3 linked regions of the Homo sapiens genome follow. The protein of the gene in region 1 purifies or fractionates together with the protein of each later gene. This does not show direct contact. Each region holds a gene or a part of one and is shown on either strand. Other genes may lie near its edges. The genes, in order: MINPP1, UBE2V2 and MRS2.

Region 1 (3,662 bases):
TGATTTCGTGGTCAATCTTTCAGAACCTCAAAAATATTTCAGGTGGATAAGAAATTTAAATATTTAAAAAACGAAATAGACCCTTTCCCTCCACTCCCCTGAGAAAAAAATAAAACAACAAAAAAGGAAGACAATAGGAAAACATAATAATCTTGCGGTGGGAGGATTCCTAGACAAAATACAACACTCAGAAGCCATAATGAAGAGACAGATATGGCTATGTAAAAGATGTAAACTTCTGTGCAATCAAAGGCACCATCAACAAACCTAAGAGATAAGCAAGAAATTAAAATATTAGCAACATACAACAAGCAAAGGGCGAATCCTTTGTCAGGCAGAATTAAAAGATATAATTAATATATCCATAATACATAAAAGGTATTTGTGATTCATAAGAAAACAAAAATAACCCAATAGAAAATGAACAAAATTATGAAGGGGTAATTTTTAGAAGAAATGCAAATGGCTACTAAACATGAAAATATGTTCACTTTCAGAAGTAATCAAAGAACTGCAAATTAAAGCTAGATACTATTTTTCATTAATCAAATTGGCGAAAATTAAAATGACTAATAATATCTACTGTTGGAAGATATGGGAAAATGAACATTCTCATATACTGTGGATATAAATTTTTACTACACCTTCAGAGAACAATTTAAAAATATATGTCAAGATGTAAAATATTCATGTGTGTTAACCCAGCAATTTCACCTATTTATCTTTAAAAAACATTTTTAGAAATCTATTTATTTATTTGGAGACCAAGTTATAAGACTGGCTAACTTTTGTGTCTTTGATAGAGGCAGGGTTTCACCATGTTGCCAAGGCTGGTCTTGAACTCCTGGGCTCCAGTGATCCACCCACCTTGGCCTCCCAAAGTGCTGGGATTATAGGTTATGCCACGGCACTCGGCCTCACCTATTTTATCTTACAAATAAACTCTCAAGTGTAAAAAACAGACTACAAGAATGTTCACTGTAGCATTACCTGAAAGAGTTAAAAACTAAGAAAAACTTCAGTAGGAAAATGGTTTCTATAAAAAGAATTTGGACTGCATTAGCAACAGCCTCTTACAGCAGTAAAATTCGATGATGGGTTAAACAATTTAACTAGCATTGACTTACAAATCGAGTCATTCATATGTCCCATGAAATAACACAGGATTTAAAAGAATGAGACAGTTCTATATTTGTCTAGAGACAAATATATTGTTAAGTAAAAATAGTAAGTTACTGAAAATACATATAGCATCACCCCCTATGTAAACAAAAGGGTATTTAAATAGCAAAAGTATTTATTGCGCAATTACTGCGCCAGGTACTAAATGCTTTGTATGAATTAATCTTATATAATCTTTGCAATAATCCTATAAGACAAGAATAATTCCCATGTTCATTTTACAGAAAAGGAAACTGTGGCATAAAGACATTAATAAACTTGTCAAAAATCATAGTTATTCAATAGGATAGTAGAGTCAAGATTCAAATGCAAATAGTCCAATTCCAGAATCCATTATTTTAACCACTATACTTAATACTGCTTCCAAAAAGAAGTTGCTGTCAGTTACTTCATCAGTAAAATACATAATTCTTGCCCATTCAGAGACTAAACATAGTTTTAAAAAATCTTTTTCAACAACCTAACTGCCTACTAACAGAATAATGGCTAGATATTGGTATAGATGTAGAATGAAATACATACATTTAAAATGTAGGACTAGAATTGCAAACATTACATCAAAAACAAAAAGTTGCATAAAAATAGAATTTTGGACTGGTATAAACTTTGATACCACTCTTAAAAGTTTTAAAATCTGCAAAACAATATCCCATTTATGTATAAAACTGGCATGGGATAATATAAATGCTCAATTCATGACAACAATTACCACTGGTGAGAAAGGAAGAAGAATGGGATCCAGGAAAGGGACCAGTAGACCTCAATTTATTTAAGGCAAGTAACTGAAGCACAAAGTTAAAATTTAGTAAAACCAAGTTGTGGGTATAGGGATGTTCACCACATTAGCCTTTTTTGTTATCTTCGTGTTTGAATTATTTCCCAATAAAGTAAATAATTTTTAAAGCTCCACAGGCGATGCCAATGTACTGCCAGTTTGGAGAGAGAGAAAAAATTCAATTTCAAATGCTAGTCTAGGCATCTTCTTTTTGATCCTTATAAAGCATCCAGGCCCTGTGACTGATAAATTCTAATCTATTTTTTCCCCAACATCTACTTCCAGTCTTTTGGAAATTAATTCAGAGTATAATGTAATCTACAATCTTTGCATGTATCTTTGTCAACATCTACCCTATGGAACATAAATTCCTAGAAAACAGAAAAAAATCTTATTTTCTTAATCTCCCATTGCTAGGTGACCATGTGCCATGGTTTCCCACCTGCTTTCCTGGCAAAATTATTAATAGTGTTCCCTTTCACTTTCGAAAGTGTCCCACCAGTTTGGATGGTAAGTTGCATAGTCAGCCCATCCACTGCAATAACTTATGATAGACATGACTGCTCATCTTCTCAGCATTGCTACATATAACTCAAAAAACATCATAGTACTTTGCTTTTCACTTTCTAAAACTTACCCCTCTTACACATTAACAGGTACTTTTGAACTGCTTCAAAAGCTAAAGAATTTATATGATTTTTCCATTTGTATCACTTTATCAGGGGGAAATTCAGAAAAGATAATTTGTTTTAAAAATAATGCCTACAGTTGAGGCTTTATATTACTCTGCCCTCAAAAAAACTCCAGAATATAACTAGAATCTTGTACAGTAATTTAAATAACACTCAAAGAAGAATATGAATCTAAAAATGGTAAATAGTAAGCACAAGGTATACAATTTTTTTGACCCAGAACATATTATTTTCTTAATGTAGATCAATTATGGGTCTTTAAAAAAGACTGTTTCCTTATGTTTTCATTTTCACAGTTCAAAATTATTTAAACTGTTAAGTTCAAATAAAAGACAACAGACATATTACCTGCATTTAAATCATTTACTGGCACTTGCAAAGTAGCTGCAACTTTTTTTAAAATGTTCTGCATTTCTGGTCCAGTTTTGAAGGCTTCCACGTGATAAAGAGCTGTAGCATTTTTTTCTACTTCAGTTAAAAACTTCTCACAGTGATCAAAAAATCTCATTAGTTTATCATTAACTGTTGGAGGTCCAAACTCCATATCTGAAAGAGAAAAAAATTTATATGTATTTGTAAATCACTGACATAAATGACAGTTTCAAATTATTGAAAATGTTAAGTGTGAAAAAGGAACACTAACATCTTACTAATCCGCACAGCTGAAATAAGCACATATTGGTCAGGAAACTCTTGGGGTAAAATTATTCCCCATTTATAATGGCTGTAACGCATGAGAATAGCTAGAAAAGGCTAAAGAAATAGAGATTGAAGATTAAATGTGTTGTAGAGATGCTACGCAATGAAATTGCATCATACATTAATAAGTACTGTTTCTGTCAGGCACGGAAAACTTTAGAAAGCAAACTAAAAATCAGCAAAGTTTCTACTTACAAGGTGAGAGAGAATTCAACATATGGAATCTATTTTTTCACTCTAAGCCAAAGTCTAAACAGAGTATTTTATTTTCTCAATTAACCTTCCCAACTCTGTATTACTTTACAAAGATTCTG
Region 2 (2,551 bases), on another chromosome or scaffold:
TGGATCACTGCACAACACTTAACATGGTATTTGGTCAGTTAAACACTGGAGAAAGGATAATCCCTGGAATCTCTATAAGAAAACAACATCTATCAGCCTTTATCATTTACTTCACAAATTAACCTGAAGCAAAAACTTTTCAGATGGTCTTATAGACTACACAGAAATATGAGATGCCAGCCAGGGGTGGTGGCTCATGCCTGTTATCCCAGCATTTGGAAGGCTAAGGCAGGAAGATCACTTGAGGCCAAGAGTTTCAGACCAGCCTATACAACAGAGACCCAGTCTCTACCAAAAACAAAAAACAAAACAACAACAACAACAGCAAAAACAGACATGGTGGCGTGCACCGGTAGTCCCAGCTACTCAGGAAGCTGAGGCGGGACGATCACTGGAGCCCAGGATAGCCAAGGGTAAAGTAAATCGTGATCGCACCAATGCACTCCAGCCTGGGTGATAGTGCAAGACCCTGTCTCTAAAAAAAAAAAAAAAAAAAAAAAAAAAATTTAATTTTAAACATGAGATGGAGCAGATTCTTAGGAATTTTTTAGATGAAAAGATCCTATTAAGGATATAAACACCATAGCAACCTCCTCATATCCAATGGTTTTTTTCAATCATGTAACTCACTCCTTGAGTTTGCACAACTCCTTTATTGAAACAAAATGGACTTTAACTTGTCACTTATTTCCTATATCATTAAATACCTTCATTAATTTTCTCTTCAGAAAATACTTATTGTGTATCTTTATTTTCAACACTCCACAATACTTTTAAATAAACAACATTTTCAGTATGAACTATGGTAAGATTTCATCATTCTATAAGGCATATTATTTAGGAGGTATTCCTTCCTATGCATTTCCTATTTTACAGTAAACTCAGTATCAGGTAAAAATTAACTGCTAATGTTCCTATCAACAATTCATCCATTCCTTTTTATGACACTTTTATCTTGTATACAAAAAAATACACAATTTTCCCAAACCTTGAGGAGTTGAATTTTGTGTGTGTGTGACAATAATTAAAAGCCAGTCAAGTTGGTACTGGAAAATCATTTTGATACTTATCAGAAAAGTAAAAGCAGTGCTTTTCGATCCATCCCAGCAATAAATGATACTATGATATTACACATACAGATGCCTAAAAAGCATACTATAAAAGGAAAATTCCTGAAATGCCTCCAAAATCCTATTATGCATACTAGACTTTATCATCAGTACTTATATTCTTCAAAATGTACCTAATACAGTCACATGCTCATTAAAAGAGTTGATACAGTTTTGATGGCAGGCTACAGTTCCCTGCTGTCTTTCCATGATGCATCAGCAGAACCATTCAAAGCCACACACACCAAACCTATTAAGAAAAAAGCATTCATAATTCCCAGCTGTGTCCTCTACATTTTCCAAACAATATTAATTTCACATGTATTTATCAATATTATATATTTAGTGGGAATTAACATTAAAATCAACATATTGTTCTTAAGTAATCCAGACTAATAAACCATGAGTCAAACAAATCTACTCTGCGAAAACCTCAAATCACTCTGTGTGATAAATTATTTTAATAACATAAAGCTATAAATTTTCTCTATTTTTATATCCAAGACTAAATACCATTGACTATCCTTCAAAATGTTTATGTTCCAAAATCCTGTAGTTACACATAAACCCACAACAAAAGACATTACTTTAGAATGGTAGAAAAAAATATTTTTAAAAATTGTCAATTCTTAAAATTGGTTAAGTAATTAAAACCATTAAATCATAACACTGACCTAACAGGACAAGAAGTTTCTTTTGGTAATCTTTATTAGTATATGATCATCCTCAAGGGTCTCACTTGCTAGCCTTTTAAACAAATTTCTAAGGCAAATTTACAGTTCATTTAAAAGGTAATAAATACCACACACTCCTACAACCTTAGCCACTTTACAAAACAAAGGAAAAATTTCTTCCAAATGTTATTATAATTAAGAGCTTTTCTATATTAATTCCTCTTACAGTCTCCCAGTGTGTCTTAGATTGCCAAGTACATCTTGATTGTGACATGCAAAATGGATTCTGCTTTAGAAATGGGTTAATTGGCATGCAGATTTCTGCAGAGATCCATAATCCCACAAACAAGAGGGGAAATGAACATTATAGGGCTGACTCTGACAACATGTACTTGGCAGGGGAAGGCGGCAGGGGGTTGGCAACTTCACAATGGTGGATTTGGGGGAAGGAAACAGGACAAGAGACTGAGGTACCCAGACCCTCATCCTGCCAACAGCATTCACGTAGTTACTAGCTTCCATGTATAATAAGACACATTTTCAAAATGGAAAGGAGGTTATCAGAGAGACGGATTCAGATCATCAGTTACCATTAGACTACAGTTTCATTCAATTTAATCTTTAACCATTAAAAATTTTTAAAGACTATATTTCAAGGTAATAGTTCATTTCAAATTTAACAAATTACAAATGCACTAATTTGTATGTATGTGTATGTTCTCTATGTGTCATCTTAAAGCATTTTAAACATTTTTGATAATTAAAATG
Region 3 (3,539 bases), on another chromosome or scaffold:
ATGTATGTTGTCAGAGTTCTACACAAATTATATTTCTAACTTATTGTGTTAGGCAGTGTGCTAGTAAGTGCTTTACACATATTGTTTAATTCTTCCCATAACCCTATGAAGCAGGTAATACCGACTTAACTGACAGATAGGGAAACTGAAGGAAGTTTGAGAAAGCAACTCGCAAGGGCCATAGTGCCTGTGACAACTTAATCCCAGGCGCTCTGACTTTAGGGCCCATGATCATAACCCTTCCACAATACCGCCGTGAACCATATCCTTCATACCATAGGAGGCAATGGAGCTTCTAGCTGTCGTCCAAGGAATGAAAGCAGGCGCCTCCAGATGAGGCCACTTCCCATGAACATAATTCCTGTAATCAGCCAAAAAATTCTATGGTCCTAAAAGAGAACACAGTTCATTTCCATCGCAAAACGCCAGGTTCCTTAGAAGATTCCTTGAATTGTTACTGCCCCAGAGTTTGAAAGCCTTATGTTATTTGTACAGCTCTTTCCTGTAGAAAGGAACTAAGAAAAACAAGGGCCTTGATAGCACCCACAGAATAAAGCAGGAGAAGAACATGATTTAAAAGGTTTTAAATATTTTAAAATCATCTATATGCCAAATGTACTGCTTTTACTTTGTGTTTCTTTGCAGCCTTTGTTTACATGCGTGCAAATCTTAAGTCATGATGCCAGAGGACACGCAATTTAAGGTCTTTGCTTATATCCACAGTTCTCAAACTGTGAGCTGAATGTCTGGTGCTATGCTGGGCACGATAGCACCTCAGAATATTTTAAAGTTGCAAGGGAAATAACATAAAGGAATCTGTAACATAATAAATTTTTTGTCTTCCGATACTGTGAAAAAATTACTAAGACACTAAGGGCATCGTGATCCAAGGAAGTTTGGGAACCTCAGACTTAGAAAAACATTCTTCCTCACCGTCATTTTCAGAGTGGTAATATTTTGCAGCACACTGTTTTTAGTTAATGTACAGAATCACAGAATTTAAATTTAATCTCTCACAAGGAAGGAATCCCATTTATAGCTATGCTGTTATCATTGGCTCCAATGATTGAGAGCTCACTTCCTCAAAGATAGCCTGTTACACAACTGATCAGCTATCACTGATGGAAATGCATGTCACTTATTGAACAGAAATCTGCCTCCTCTTTTTGTTGTTGTTGAGATGGAGTCTTGCTCTTCACCCAGGATGGAGTCCAGTGGCTCAATCTTGGCTCACTGCAACCTCCGTCTACCTGATTCAAGCGATTCTTGTGCCTCGGCCCCCCTGAGTAGCTGGGATTACAGGTGTGCGGCACCATGCCCAGCTAATTTTTGTATTTTTAGTAGAGATGGGGTTTCACCATGTTGGTCAGGCTGGTCTCGAACTCCTGGCCTAAAGTGATCTGCCCACCTTGGCCTACCAAAGTGCTGGGATTACAGGTGTGAACCACAACCCCCAGTCCTATATGCAATATGTGATCTAAGATTTTCTTTGTGATAAAAAGCACTACTGAGATAAGTGGCAAAATCTGAGTAGGGTCTTTAGATTGGAAAATAACTTCAGTATTAACTTCCTGATTTTGATAGCTGCACTGTGGTTATGTAAGAGGATGTCCATGTTTTAGGAAATACGTATTAAGACATTTAGGAGTAAAGGAACATCACATTTGTTCTTAGTCTCAAATAATTTAGAGAATAAAGTATGCTAGCAAAGAAATGATAAAGCAAATGTGATAAAATGTTGATATTTGGAATCTGGTTTAAGAAAATGGAAATTCTTTGACTATTCTTGGAACTTTTCCAGAAGTCTGAAATTATCTTAAAATATTTTTCCTATCTCAGATTCACCATGGCAAATATTAATTTTAACTATATCGAAATAAAGACATTTGACATCCATGGATTTAATGTTTTCAACTATTCTTCAGGACACCTACAAAGATGTGTAATTTGTAATTCTGATAAGACATTAATTTGAATCTTTTCAGCCTACTACTGAGCAAGCGTAGCTCACTACCACCTACCACTCTTATCTCATTACAAATGGGCTGTGCTGTACCTAGGATTGCACATACTAAAACTATAAGAAAGGAATTTGAAAAATCTTCCATTGTTTTGAAAAGTTGGCAATTAAGTGAGAGAAAAATATCAAAGTATAAAATGGAGTTAGCTTGTAGATTGAGTATATATACATAAACATGATTATGTATTTAGAGAAAAGACAGGGACTTGTAGAGAAAGTCCTGTAGTCACACTTAGGGAATCTGTAAAGGTCTTTGGATGTATCTTTTGAGAATGTCAATGGCTGGATTATGTTGCACAAGGTATTCTGCTTGCTTCTGAACTTTCCAATGATCTAGATTTGAGTTCAAACCTCCAGTGGGTTCCTATCCCACTTAGAAATCCAAACCCCTACCACGCTCTACGTCACTGACATGATCATACTTATCTGCATCTGGGACCTCATTTTCCACCTGACTCATGCTCTTCTAACCATTCCAACCTTCTTGCCATTTCATGAACAAGCTCAGATCGTTCCTGCCTCAATCTTTACTTCTGTGGTTCCCTCTACTTAGAACACTCTCCCCCAGATCTTCCTGCCTCCACCAGGGTGTTACCGCCTTACATCTTCCTTGACCACCCTATCTCTAAAATGCCACACATCCTACTGCCTAACATTCTCTATCCGCTTCTCTGGCTTTATTTTTCTCTGAGGCACTTAGCACTTAACATACTTTGTTTGTTTATGAACTCTCTCCTCCACTACAATATAACCTACGCAAGGGCAGACTCACTGCTAAATGGGCCTAAAGCAGTGCTTGGTATATAACAGGCAATAAAAAAACGTATTTGTGAGATGAATGAACACATGTATTTCCTTTTCTTTTATACTTTACATTAAAAATGACTAATACTGTCTTTGCTTCAAGGAGCTCATGCTCTTTTGCAGGCTTTGAACAAGGGATTGCAGATTTAAGGAATGTAGCAGATGGAAGGGTAGGATTATTTGGGCGCAGACGACAAAGTAACTTTACTGGGCCAGGTTGTCGGTGCATTCAGTGAAGGGACAACTACTTTGAGACCTGAAAGATGAGGAGGAAGTAACTAAGCAAAACGGGGATCTGAGGGGAGAGGAGTGGAAGCAGCATGTCTGGGAAGGACACTGAGAGAGGTAGTAACAAGTGGCTACCCACAAGATGGACAAGTCGGTGCGGCAGGACGGGATTTTTATCCTAAGGCTAATCAAAAGCCATTGAATAGTTGTATGCAGAAGGGTGTCATAATACTTACATCTTATAAAGACCACTTTTTAAAAGGGCATAGTGGTCCTAATGGGAGGTGATGTGGGCAACAGAGTAGACTCGTTAGACTAATGAGGACACAGAATCCAGCATCACACTGTGCCAGATGCACATCCAGGTTCAGTTCTAGAAAACTTACAATAAGCTATTCTGTGAAAACACAGTCAGTGGGTTCTGTATCTGCAGATATGCAAGGTTGACTGTACTGGGTCATTTTATATCAGAGACTTGAATACCCAC

Evidence for each region.
Region 2: the proteins of MINPP1 (region 1) and UBE2V2 purify together in Homo sapiens (affinity purification with mass spectrometry; one large-scale study listed by BioGRID and IntAct). This does not show direct contact.
Region 3: the proteins of MINPP1 (region 1) and MRS2 purify together in Homo sapiens (affinity purification with mass spectrometry; 2 studies listed by BioGRID and IntAct, with this or other methods). This does not show direct contact.

The regions. Positions count from the first base shown.
Region 1 is NC_000010.11:87,507,869-87,511,530, reverse strand, and holds part of MINPP1 (multiple inositol polyphosphate phosphatase 1 isoform 1 precursor), read right to left. Parts: exon of another isoform or gene 3,327-3,662; coding exon of another isoform or gene 3,293-3,326; intron 3,196-3,292; coding exon 2,998-3,195; intron 1-2,997. UniProt on the Homo sapiens protein: Multiple inositol polyphosphate phosphatase that hydrolyzes 1D-myo-inositol 1,3,4,5,6-pentakisphosphate (InsP5[2OH]) and 1D-myo-inositol hexakisphosphate (InsP6) to a range of less phosphorylated inositol phosphates.
Region 2 is NC_000008.11:48,062,791-48,065,341, reverse strand, and holds the end of UBE2V2 (ubiquitin-conjugating enzyme E2 variant 2), read right to left. Parts: 3' UTR 634-2,551; downstream 1-633. UniProt on the Homo sapiens protein: Has no ubiquitin ligase activity on its own. The UBE2V2/UBE2N heterodimer catalyzes the synthesis of non-canonical poly-ubiquitin chains that are linked through 'Lys-63'. This type of poly-ubiquitination does not lead to protein degradation by the proteasome.
Region 3 is NC_000006.12:24,419,787-24,423,325, reverse strand, and holds part of MRS2 (magnesium transporter MRS2 homolog, mitochondrial isoform b precursor), read right to left. Parts: intron 390-3,539; coding exon 276-389; coding exon of another isoform or gene 270-275; exon of another isoform or gene 1-269. UniProt on the Homo sapiens protein: Magnesium transporter that mediates the influx of magnesium into the mitochondrial matrix and regulates magnesium metabolism. Also permeable to calcium, sodium and potassium ions.